3 separate regions of the Homo sapiens genome follow, and all the other regions are reported to be linked to region 1. The links are microRNA targets in miRTarBase. Many come from high-throughput screens and were not tested one by one. Region 1 holds a microRNA gene; each other region holds the end of a gene's coding sequence.
Evidence for each region. Region 1 holds the annotated microRNA hsa-miR-365b-3p (UAAUGCCCCUAAAAAUCCUUAU, at 2,411-2,432, shown strand). A microRNA usually pairs through its seed, bases 2 to 8, with sites in the 3' UTR of a target mRNA and lowers its output. Matches are read on the target gene's strand: a 7mer-m8 pairs with bases 2 to 8, a 7mer-A1 pairs with bases 2 to 7 and ends in A, and an 8mer does both.

Region 2: the mRNA of UBL3 is a reported target of hsa-miR-365b-3p. Seed matches in the 3' UTR shown: 7mer-A1 at 3,319-3,325.
Region 3: miRTarBase lists KPNA1 as a target of hsa-miR-365b-3p. Seed matches in the 3' UTR shown: 7mer-A1 at 3,923-3,929.

The regions. Positions count from the first base shown.
Region 1 is chr16:14,306,930-14,311,081 of GRCh38, forward strand. It overlaps MIR365A (microRNA 365a), which reads left to right and starts at 2,356; the gene lies at 2,356-2,442. All of the region lies in intron 1 of MIR193BHG (MIR193b-365a host gene), which reads left to right. RefSeq lists enhancers at 1-226, 227-911, 1,707-1,756, 3,643-3,937, 3,729-3,848 and 1 more and a silencer at 3,523-3,817.
Region 2 is chr13:29,763,558-29,767,557 of GRCh38, forward strand. UBL3 (ubiquitin like 3) reads right to left here. Exons shown (of 5, transcript NM_007106.4): 5 at 814-3,750. The coding sequence ends at 3,698. Among named protein-coding and RNA genes, the nearest start is that of UBL3, 85 kb to the right of the region's middle.
Region 3 is chr3:122,423,748-122,427,747 of GRCh38, reverse strand. KPNA1 (karyopherin subunit alpha 1) reads left to right here. Exons shown (of 14, transcript NM_002264.4): 13 at 32-210; 14 at 576-4,000. The coding sequence ends at 763. All of the region lies in intron 1 of WDR5B-DT (WDR5B divergent transcript), which reads right to left. Among named protein-coding and RNA genes, the nearest start is that of WDR5B-DT, 9.5 kb to the right of the region's middle.

The DNA of each region.
Region 1 (4,152 bases):
TGGCTGGTTGCGCCTAAGGTTAGCTGTGCGGTGTGGTATGACAGTTTTCTCAGAGATGTGCAAAAATCTAGGCTCTCTTGCTGGAATCGTGTGAGATCAGTGCTGGGCCTGTTGGCATTGGCATTTGTGCCCAAGACAGCCCAGACCTCTGCCAGCCGAGGCCCAGATGTGGCCTCAGAGCCACTACTGGTGCCCAGACAAGTCCAGACAGGTGCCTGGGGGTCTTTCCTCCCGAGACGAAGCCTGCAGCAGTTCAGCCAGAAGATGGGGTATTTGGCTCTCAAAGTCAGCCTCCCCAGAGACTCTGCAGGGTTTAATAGCCTGGTGACCCTGTGGGCTCTGGCGAGGGCAGAACCCCACTTTGCTTTCCAAATGCTCAAAGGGGAACAGATGAGGCTATCCCACAGGCTCAGAGCAAATCTGTCCTGTGTGAGTGCAAACGTGGTTCTAGAAGATTCAGAGGCAAAGCTGAGCTTTTGCAGCCCAGCCCCAAGCCCTTGCTCTCGAGCACCAGGGCTGCGATCCTTCGACTTGGGGTGGGCCTAGGAGGCGTAGCTCCCAGCCAGCAAGACAACACATAACACATCTGAGTTACCGTGCATGTGTTTGCTGGTCTCTTCTCCAGCTCCGTGAGGCCTCCCACCTGGGAGCTGAGCCTTTTGCTTTGATCAGGCTGGGAGGAAAACCTAGGCCAGGAAGGGCCGGGCTGCAGGCTGGAAGTGGAAAGAAGTGGGCCAGGTGGACAGAAAAAGGGGCCACCAACTAAGCCACCTTGGGGGTCGGCCCAGAGTGAGAACTGGGCTGGCATTCTGGGTTCAAACACACAAGAAAACTGTCTGCAGCCTCTCTGCCCTGGCACCAACATGTGCCTGCTCCAGGAAGTTGCACCCAGCCCTGAGTCAGCCAAACCCGTGGGACTCCCATTTGGCCCCAGTAACTGGACTCCAGGCTACCAAAGGCCTCGTGGGTTCTCGATCGTATCTTAGAATGGCGTTAAAAGGTCCAGACCCGGCACCTGTAGGCCATGCCGTATTTAGCCCTAGGTTCACCCGGAGAATATTTTAGGTGCTACTTGAAAGAAGAGATCTGGGCCCTAGTTGCCGGCTGTCACATGGCAAGGGTAGAATCGCTCCCTCACAGACCTGGCCGAGATGGCCGGGTGCTCACTGGTACAGGTGCCCAGAGTCCCTGCCAGAGCTTCGGGGCCATGCGACGGGTGCCAAGGAGCCAGCTAGCGACTGGGGCGTCGGTTCTGTGTGGGGATGCCTTTTCACCCCGTTCTCAATCTGAAGGCAGTGAATCCACTTCCATTCACAGAACTCACAGAGGCCTCTCCTCTCTGAGATGGCCCAGTGTGATATCCCAGGCTGCGTAGTAAGCTCCTCCTCTGGTGTCAGCCATGTGGAGGGGTTAACCCTTTCCTGGCTCTGAGGGTGCTGGCTGGCACAGGGGGCACCCACCTGCAGGGCCTCAAAGGTTATATGCCTTGGGGAAGACACCCTGAACTCCTTAGTCCTCAGATCTTAGTGGCTGAACCAAGAGATGGCACCTGGGACCTTAGCAGTAAAACCCGTCCCCTTTTTTTTGAGACAGTGTCTTACTCTGTTGCCCAGGCTGGAGTGCAGTGGTGAGCACAGCTCACTGCAGCCTGAACTTCCTAGGCTCAAGCCTCATCCTCCTGAGTAGCTGGGACTACAAGCACACACCACCACACCTGGCTATTTTTTGCAGAGACTTGGGGGGGGTCTCACTGTGTTGCCCAGGCTGTTCTCAAACTCCTGGCCTCAAGCAGTCCTCCCACTTTGGCCTCCCAAAGTGCAGGGATTACAGGCGTGAGCCCCCACGCCAGCCGGTTTGCCCCTTTTGCACCACCAGCGATAACCACTCAGCTCCCCTACCCAAGCCTTAGTCCTTCTGTCCGTGTTGTGGAAACCAGGTATTTTCATCAGCATTTCCAAGGGGACTAAGTTTCTCCCATTCCAGAGGAGGAGGTGTTGAAGGATAACTTAGATCATTAATGAGGGTCTGGAACAGTCATCTGAAGTTTGGGGGAAACGTCACGTCTCCTATGATGCGCCTGGCTTTAGGGAATAATCCTTGTATCCATTTTGGGAACCTGCTCTGGGATTCCAGATCTGTGGTTTTCTGAGCACGTCTGTGTGGAAGCTGCTGCACTGAGACCTATTTAGCCAATTATTGAGAAGATGAGGTCCCTTTCGTGAGTCTGCACGGAGCCGCCGTACACCATGAAAGCGCTCACTTGTTTAAAGTTTGCTCTAACTTTGTACATTTTTTCCTTTTTAGTTTTGGCTCTTGGTGCTCTGAGAGCTACCACTTCCTGCCAGCTGGTTCGTTACCGCAGGGAAAATGAGGGACTTTTGGGGGCAGATGTGTTTCCATTCCACTATCATAATGCCCCTAAAAATCCTTATTGCTCTTGCAGTATTCCTCGGGGGTCCCTGGGCCAGAAAGACATCAGCTCGGAGTTCCTCCAGCAACTCAAAGAAGAGAGAAAGCTGTTCCCCAAACTCTTCCGCTGTAGCGCCTTCTGGGTCCCTGGTAGATGCCTTCTTGTGCTCAAAACCGGTTATCACTGTGAAAAATTGAAAGACGCCATGCGCAGACACTGGTTGCTAAACGTGCTTTTGCCCTCCAGGGGCAGACGCTGAGATCCGGCCTGGGAAGGAGTACAGCTGTGGCTCCCCATCAGCGTCAGCATTTGCTCTGGGGGGTTGTAGGGGGAGGTAGGGAAAGCGGAAAGAAACAAGTGTTACCTGTTTGACGAGGCCTGGTCCTTGCAGCCAGGGCCTCCGGGATCATCGCCTTGGCAGGGGGCCCTGGGGCAGTCCTGGCTTTCCTGCTAGCTCCCTGAGACAGAACACTTTCCCCGCTCGCTGCCTCAGTTTCCCCATACACCAAGGGAGGGGCAGCACCCCCTGCTCTGGCTTCAAAGGGTTCTTGGATGTAGCCAATGTTATATATAAAAAGCTCTAACGTTGTATAAGCTCTGAAGGTGCTTTGAAAATTGGAGAGTCCATGCATTAAACATGGAAGGTAATAATATGAATACACACAGAGGAATTCATGGGTGGGGAGACGGCAGCCCAGCACTGAGCCTGGGTTTCTGGGATCAGCCAGGCCTGCATTCCAGCCCGAGCTCTGCGCCTCTCTTGCTGTGTCACCCGGGACAAGTGAGTCAGTCTCTCTGAGCCACCAGCTCCTCAGGCATGAAACCTGTAACTCAGACTCCCAAGTCTGATTTGCACATCTCTGATTTTAAGCGGCGCCGGCTAAAGGTGAAAATTATTCTAGTAGGTATTCTTTGCACCGCTGATTTGTACTTCAGGCAATTGGTTGGTTTTCCATTTAGGGTCGGGAGACAGGGGCCCTTTTTTTGTCCATCAATTGATGTCAGTTAAACAAAAAAGAGTGGGTGTTTTGGAAGAAAAATATTAAGCAACTACAGCTGCCCTGAGGATGGGACAGAAATCAGAAAGTCGTGTGTAAAGTTTCAGAGGTCCACTTTTAGAGAATTCTTGTTTATCTCAGGGATTTTCCGCACTCCTGTAGTCGGTGTGGGGAGGGGTGGGGGGAGATGGGGGAGTTGCCAGTTCAGATCTGTAGAGGGCTCCAGCATGACAAAACTGGGTGTCACACATCTTCCTTTTGGGGGTCGGGAAACCACCCTTCCCTGCTCACCGACACCACTGGGACCCCTCACCCCCCCACTCCTGCATTGATCCATAGCTCAGATTTCTCTCTCATTTTAGGGTCACGATGACTCAGCACCCTCCTTTCTGGCCAGGGCACCTCCCTTGGCCTCTAGGGGCACTTGCCTGACAGGCCTCACTGTGCCGGACCTGGGAGCCAGCTGCCCACCAGCCCCCTGGGACTCTGGTTTTGCAGGGAAACCATGGGTGATCAGTCCCAGCCGGCAGGGGCCAACTGCGGTTTCACTTTCTGCTGCATCATGGGGTGGGGGGTGGCAGCGGGCCCCCGCTGGCCAGCTAGAGCAGGCACTGAGAGGCCTGCAGACAGCTGCCGGCCCTGCTGCCAGAACGCACCCCCCACCCACCCCCTGCAGCCTGCCAGGATGGGGGCTGGGCTCTCAGGAGCCCCTTAAATCTTTCCACCTGCACAGTGTCGGGGACC
Region 2 (4,000 bases), not on the chromosome of region 1:
ACCACTTCCAGAGCCATTTTAGAAAATGTGTTTACCCAACTCCTTTTTTATTGGTTGACTCACGTGGAAGAGATGGGCATTTCCTTTCCCCAAATGGGAATTTACTATGCCTACTCCATATTTCTTGAAAGCTGTCATTTTGAAAAAGAGGAATATGAAAAATATTAAAAGACAAACATCTGACATCACTGTCGAAGACTATAAAATAATGTAGTAAGTGAAATTGGTTTTCACATTTCAGTACTGCTTTAAACTCTGATATTTAAGAACTAAGTGTTTCTCATTTAGTTCTATCCATGATCTCTTTCAGAAGTCAACCACCTCCTGTGTAAAAGCCTCATAGAAGCCACTGCCTTCTGAAGGAAACACACCAACTGGCAGGGGGTCAGGGTAAGCCAGGAGTCACACCCAACTACCACTGCTCACACCCAAGAACCCCACCCTACCCTGGCCACAAAAACTGTGCCTAGACTCCAGCACAGCCTGCAGCTGTGTTTCAATTATAGCTGTGTTTGTAATTATAGGTCATGTGCCTTCTCCCCCACCCCAATCACTCCACCCCAATCACTCCATTTGGCTAACAAGTGACCATATTATAACACAAAAATGGAAAACAAACTGGAATGCTCGAAAAAGTTACAAATAAAAACGGTATGAAGGCATATTAAATTTTGGCTGATACTTCCCTTTGATTTTGCTAAACTATAGCAAAGGCTGGCTCAATGTTGATTTTTACTGAAGAGTATCATTAACTGAAGAAAGAAAAAAAGACATAAACAGTAGTGAAATAAAGAATAGGCAAATACACCAGAATTATGAATAGAAGCCATTTTAAAGAAGAGAAATATTCTACAACAGATGAAGAAAGTTTTAATTTCTTTTCACATTAAACATTGTTTACCACAATCAGCTAACAGAAATTACTGTAACATTGGTCACGATGACTTCATAAAACTAAAGATAAATGTTATGAGGAAACTTCATTTAACGTGAATGGTAATGTTAGATACTGTATTTTTCCATGGTAAAATACAACTTATCTTGAAGAGAAAGCAAATAGTTCAGATCAGGGAGACATGCTGAGGTTTTAATAAAGAAAAGCTTGGCCTTGTCCAGAACACTTAACAAAGTTCAGGACAATTTAGGTAAAAGAGATGAGTGAGACACCAGCGTTAGGCAGGGACATAGGCTCATCATTCAGGCTTTATGTACATTACTGGATCTATGCAGCTCTCACCTTTAGATAAGTGAGCTATATTTTTGGCAGAGGGATCTTCAAAAGTAGCCTTGGATATGAGGAATCGTATTTTAACCACCAGGCAGTCCAAGGAATTATTTTTAAAGGGACAGCTGAGTATTTCACGTATATACTATTAAGGCATCTAAATTTTTGGTGTTTTCAGTATATAATTTTACTGCTACTTTTTATTCTTTTTTTTCATATTGTACAACTATGATATTAGGTATTAAGCGACGTAATTCTTTCTCTACTAGTGAACCAGTTTATTTCACTTAGCAAACTCTAAATTGAGGGAAATATATAATCTGAGAACACACAGAAAAATATATTGAAAAACCAATAGAGAATTATTTTTAACCATCATAAAAACTCAATCTTAATTAACTGATAGTCTTTAACTTAAAAAAAGAGTAATCAGAATGAAAATAGGTATTAAAAATAATTACCAGTAGTTTGTTTTACAAAATAGAGCCATAAATTGTTTAATTGCCCAATTAAGCAACTACCAGATTCTTTAGTCAACACTAACAGAATTCACATTTCAGCTAGTCAACAAAGCATATAAATATTTAACATCTCTTGAAGATAACATTTTAGTGATAACGGAGACTACATAATTCTATCCATTGTTGTGACTGTCCACAAATTAACCAGGTTAAATATCAAAGATACATTGGGAATACTCCCCAAAACAACAACAGAATATTAATTAAATGAATTTTAAAAGCTTAAGAAATGAAAGTAGAAAACATGAATGAGACGGTGCTTAAACAATTATTGACCTAATCAAGACCTTTAAAATTACCACCAAAATGCACTATCATTTTTTTTTTATTTAGTTTACAGGAAGAATCTGTAAGTACAGGTTGCAGAAAGAAAACGTTTAGTGCTATTTACATTCATTTTAAAACTCTGCTCTATACAAATTTAATTCTGATCAGTATGAACAATATTTTCGTAGATCTACTGCATATAAAGCCTTTTCATCAAAGCATTAACAATGAATAAAATAACATGATTACATTTAAACAACGCTGACCATTTGAAACCATTTACATTTAATGTTTGTAAGGGCTGTTGACACTTAGTACAGAATGTAATGTCAGCCTGCAACTTCATTTTTATAAAGGCTAAACTTATTTATATGGAATATTGTTCTGTATACTACGCGCCAATCTATATTTTAAGTCCTGTAGTTAGGTATTTTATAAGTCTTTTATTAAATATATTCTACACATATTTGTAATTTCATCCAGGAAGAATTTCTTCCCAGTGAAAAAATATAAAAATCTTTCATATTTTTACAGGTTTAGATGAAAGTAGCTCATGCTTTAGTGCTGTGCAAATTGTTTTTAGCATATCAATCTTTAAATTATTGGTATGAAATAAAAGAAAAAGTGGCATTCTTGTGTATGCCATAAAAATCAGCTTTTGACTTTAATACAATTGCAAGCACTAATATCAAACGCAAACTATATAAAGAAACAAAATTAGTACTATGGAGTTTTTTTTTAATTTTAAGAATTCATCTGAACTCTAAGGAGTAAGCATGACACTGGATGTGGTTACAAATTAATGATAATTATGGAAAATTTCAATTTGCTGATATTCAAATACATAAAATTGATCAATGAGGTTTTCTAATATTTCTGCACAATAATGAAAGCCGATGAGTGACTGAAACTACCCTCCCACATTAAGGCTAGGAGACGCACTCTCACCCCTTCTTGTGCTGTCTAAACAAACACTCAGTTACTGTAGGACTCAAGAGTGCATGTCTTAAAGGAAAAAAAATTAGTTTCATCAGCCCTCTACTGAGTGCTTTAAACAGGCACATTTTGTTTTTTCATTTGTTGCAGTGAAAATAGTCACACTCAGTTTAGTATTCTGTGCCAGTGCAGCCACCACGGCTGACTTTGGTAGAATTCACCCAACATTTTAGTTTCTTTTCCATTTTTTCCTCTCAAGTTGGCCCAGTAATTAACTTCATTAATTGCTGAGTGTCTTCCAGTGTGGAATTGTATATATAAGTATTTCTAGATACCACACACTGTTATAAATTCTGCTGATGAGGAAAATAATGCCAATCTTTTTAATGCAAATTGTATTTGGAACACTTGATTTATTAGTTCTGATGATGAAAATTTTGTGGCAGCAAAATGGTTTCTGCTACGAAAGATAACTTGTTAACTTTTCCCCTGGAGATTGACTGCATTCAAAAACCAATATGTGTTAAAACAGCTCAACAAAAAATACAAGAAATAAAAAATCAGAGTGAAAAATGTTCTTGGTTCTTTTTACTTTCATGAGAAAAGATGACAGTGTTCATGTGGTAATTCAGTTCCATGTGTTTACAGGCAGACTGTTCTGAACGGTTTCTGAAGCAATGTCGGGTCTTTTCTGTCCCAGCAGCATGAAAGACAAAGACTATATCACATCACACTAGGCAGACAGTGTTTACAGGATTACACAACAATTACTCTCTCCAGTCTTCTCACGATTCCTCTGACCTAGGGAAAACGAAGAAGAGCCTCGTTTATAAAAATTCTAGAACTGGAGGGGAAAATGGGCTAGGCAATCAAGTGTAGGAAGTAGTAGTTTTGAGTTTTTAAAAATGTTTGCATTTTTCAAAATTAAGAAGCTGTAATAAATGTTCTTTTAATTTTAGCATGTTTCAAAAATGTCTGGTTATTTGCTTGACAATCTCTATTCATAAACTATGCAAACTTCCCTTCCCTCAGCATATCCAAGAAAAACCTA
Region 3 (4,000 bases), not on the chromosome of region 1:
TTTGTTTGACTACATTATTCTTTGTATTTAGGTACCTAGTAGAACTGGGTTGTATCAAGCCGCTCTGTGATCTCCTCACGGTCATGGACTCTAAGATTGTACAGGTTGCCCTAAATGGCTTGGAAAATATCCTGAGGCTTGGAGAACAGGAAGCCAAAAGGAATGGCACTGGCATTAACCCTTACTGTGCTTTGATTGAAGAAGCTTATGGTAAGATGCTTTGGTTGAAGAAGTTTATGGCCAAGAATGAATTGGGTCATAGATAGAGTTCAGTAAAAACAATACTACTACTGCTAGGCACTGGATGAAAAGAGGACTGTTAGGAAATTGCTGCTTCTGCAGACTGGATATTACTTGCATATGTATTTAAGATGTCAGTTTATAATACTAGCTTTCAGATGTAATCCCAGCAGTCATTTCTGTGCTATTATAAAATACTTATGAGATACAAATAATCTTTCTTTACATCAAGAACAGAGATATATGACAAAATATAGTTTAGGAATATATAGTTATGGAATTTCCAATATTTATTGAAGTTTTCAATAAAGATTTTCCTTTATTCTTCATTTTAGGTCTGGATAAAATTGAGTTCTTACAGAGTCATGAAAACCAGGAGATCTACCAAAAGGCCTTTGATCTTATTGAGCATTACTTCGGGACCGAAGATGAAGACAGCAGCATTGCACCCCAGGTTGACCTTAACCAGCAGCAGTACATCTTCCAACAGTGTGAGGCTCCTATGGAAGGTTTCCAGCTTTGAAGCAATACTCTGCTTTCACGTACCTGTGTCAGACCAGGCTACCCAGTCGAGTCCTCTTGTGGAGCCCACAGTCCTCATGGAGCTAACTTCTCAAATGTTTTCCATAATACTGTTTGCGCTCATTTGCTTGCCTTGCGCACCTGCTCTCTTACACACATCTGGAAAACCTCCGGCTCTCTGTGGTGGAATACCCTTCTAATAAAAGGGTAACCAGAACGGCCCACTCTCTTTTACGGAAAAATCCCTAGGCTTTGGAGATCCGCACTTACATTAGAGTTATGGGAATATACACATATTAATGTGGCTCCCTTTTTCTTGTGGGGGAATAAAAGAGGACTCCTCCTCATTCCCTTTAACATGGGGGAAAAAACTGACATTAAAAGATGAGACTAAATCTTTATCTTGAATTTTACACAACTACTTACGACAAGGGAGATGTTTAGACCTGTTGTGTATACTTCAGAGTACTTTTCATGAGTTCTTCCACAGTGAACCCTTGGATTACCTGGTGGCTTTTTCTAGCCAGATTTGCATTAATCCTTACTGAGATTGGATGGTTTTCTTTCCTCTATTGGCGCCATTCTTCAGATATTAAAGTTAAACCATCCACTCCCTCACCTTCAGCCTTCAGTGAATGTGCTTTCTAGTTGTCAGGAATGCTGAAGAATTAACACTTTGACTCCTAAATGTGATACTGGTTTGTAGATTCCCTTAGAGCAGAAAGGAGAGGGGCACATATTAATTTGTATCGCTTTTGCTTCTCTTTGGTCTTTTGTGTCTTAGAATTTGGAAGTGGTTCATTTCTGTTGCTGGTATGAGGATTTCGAATACTTAGTAATCGAAAACCATATCCTGTAATTTAATAAAAAAAACTAAGGACGAAAAAACCCTCCAATTTTCCCAAATGCAATCAGTGTAACTAGGGGCTGTGTTTCTGCATTAAAATAAATGTTTCAGGCTTTGTGGTCCTGATCAAGGTCCTCATTAAAAAATTGGAGTTCACCCTAGGTGCTTTTCCCCTCTGTGACTGGCAGATAACACATACTTTTGAAAGTAACTTTGGGATTTTTTTCTTAGGTGCAGCTCGATTCTAATCTTTTCATGCTGCACACGATTCCTTTAATGTAGCATCCTTATCTGAAAGAAATAACCATCTTCTCAACATGACCTGCTTAACCCAAATAAGAACAGTGATCTTATAACCTCATTGTTTCCTAATCATTTTATTTCATCTCCTGCTAGTACTGTGCCGCTTCCCCCTCCCCCCACACAAAATAAAAACAGTATCTGCCTTCTGGCTCATTTAATGATGACTGCAATCTGTACCTGCAAATGGCGCTTCCAGTACTGTGTTCAGTGATCCACATTTGTGCTTGGACTGGAATGAAAAAATACGCTTAATTGCCAAGACAACTGCAAATGAGTTCAATACGACTTCTCGGTGCTAGTTGGCCATCTTGACTCAATGTTGGGATACACTACCAGAGAAGATTTTTTTGTTGATGTGCTGTTCAAAGTGAATTCTGAAGGAAAAGGTTGCTCACCTCTGTTTCAGAGCATACCCTTTTAAACCTTTTTAGACTTGTCCTCTTCTAGAATTCATTATAACCCCAAAGTGTAAAAACTATTTGGAAGTTGCCCCTGACAAGCTATTATACATCTCTGGTAAATCCTGCTGAATGTAAGGGATATTCAGAGCTTTTCATACCTCATCATGATGTTATTTAAGCAGCCAACTTATGTGACCTGATTTAAACTTTTAAAAAATCCACTTCATTCAAACTAGAAAGAGTCAAAGACAAAGGACATTTATCAGCCAAGAGTGTGACGCATTCTTCGCATCTAGTCTGTAGTAGTGTCTGTGCTCTGGGATGGATACCGTCTGATGTCTGTTTGTTATTGATGGCGCAGCCACTGCAAAACTAGTCAACTCCCATCTATAACTGTTACTTTTTCTAGTGCTGCTTTGTGCTGAGAGAACATTTTAGTTTACTGCACTTGACCTGTAAAAGACTGATTCTTTGTAATTTTAGGGATAAATTAGGTGGTTAATTTAAAGAAGAAATTTCAATGTTGCCTTTACATCACATTAAAATATAACTTCTTTCAGAAGGATAATAGAAGCACTGATTCATAGTAAAAATCTTGTTTTTAGCTTTGACTTTTTTGTGGCTGTTTTTTAAAATTGTAAATTACTAGTAACATGTCATTTCTATAGGATGTTTTAAATTATGTACCTTCCATTGGATAGTTAAAATAATTTCATTTTATAAGCCAATTTGAGTGGGAAAGATACAAAGCACACAGTTGTCTCCCCACATTAGGAAGAGTAGTGTGCATTCAGACATTCGGAATTTTTGCTAGTAGTTGGAGATGTTTCAGTGAGTGAATTAAAACAAAGTCTATTTAACTGACGTGATCTATTTTGTGTCTAAAACAGAGGAATTTATCTTGTCCTAGAAGTTCATGAACTATAAGATCTAAGTTTTTTTTTCTTTTTTAACAATAAAATGATTTTTTCTTAAAGTATCAAAGTTGGAATTGGCTAAAAGTGAAGTAGCATAACTCAGATATGTTGGAACTTGGTACTGAAGCAGGCTTTTTGGTAACAGAAATGACATTTTAAGGGGTAACTGTATATCCTGTTTTTAGTTCTTTGCCTCTCAGATTCTGTTAACTTAGTTTAAATTCACTGAATACCCTACCACTAAGGCGTTGCTCATTACAAAAGCATGTTAATTTCAATACAGGAAAACTCTTTTGTAGTTTTATATATGGATTGGGGAAAGTGACTTTGTTTTACTTTTCCTTTTTATTCCCCTCCATCCTCCAAACTTCCAATCTATATTATTTGTAATGAGAACTTTGGTGGGGGAAAAAAAGCATTAAGAGAATTTTGGATGTAAAGGCATCTGGTATCTGATGGACCAGCAGGTAGATGTGGTTGGATTGAGAAATTTTGGGTAAGGTAGATGATAGAAGAAAGAGATTTTAGGAGACACAGTTCTCTGTGGAACACTTTCTTTCATGTTCCTGTAACTAATTGATCAAGACCCTTTTAAACGCTTATCTTTGTCAGTTCCGCTTTTGAAAAAACTATTGCCCTAGGATTGTTTCTTCCATATGACAGATGAAGGTTATTGGCTCTGAGTCATTTTTGGCATTATCGTCACAGATAAAAAGATTGGCAATTAATCTCATAAAAAATCTGAATTATTCCAGATTGCTGCCGATTTT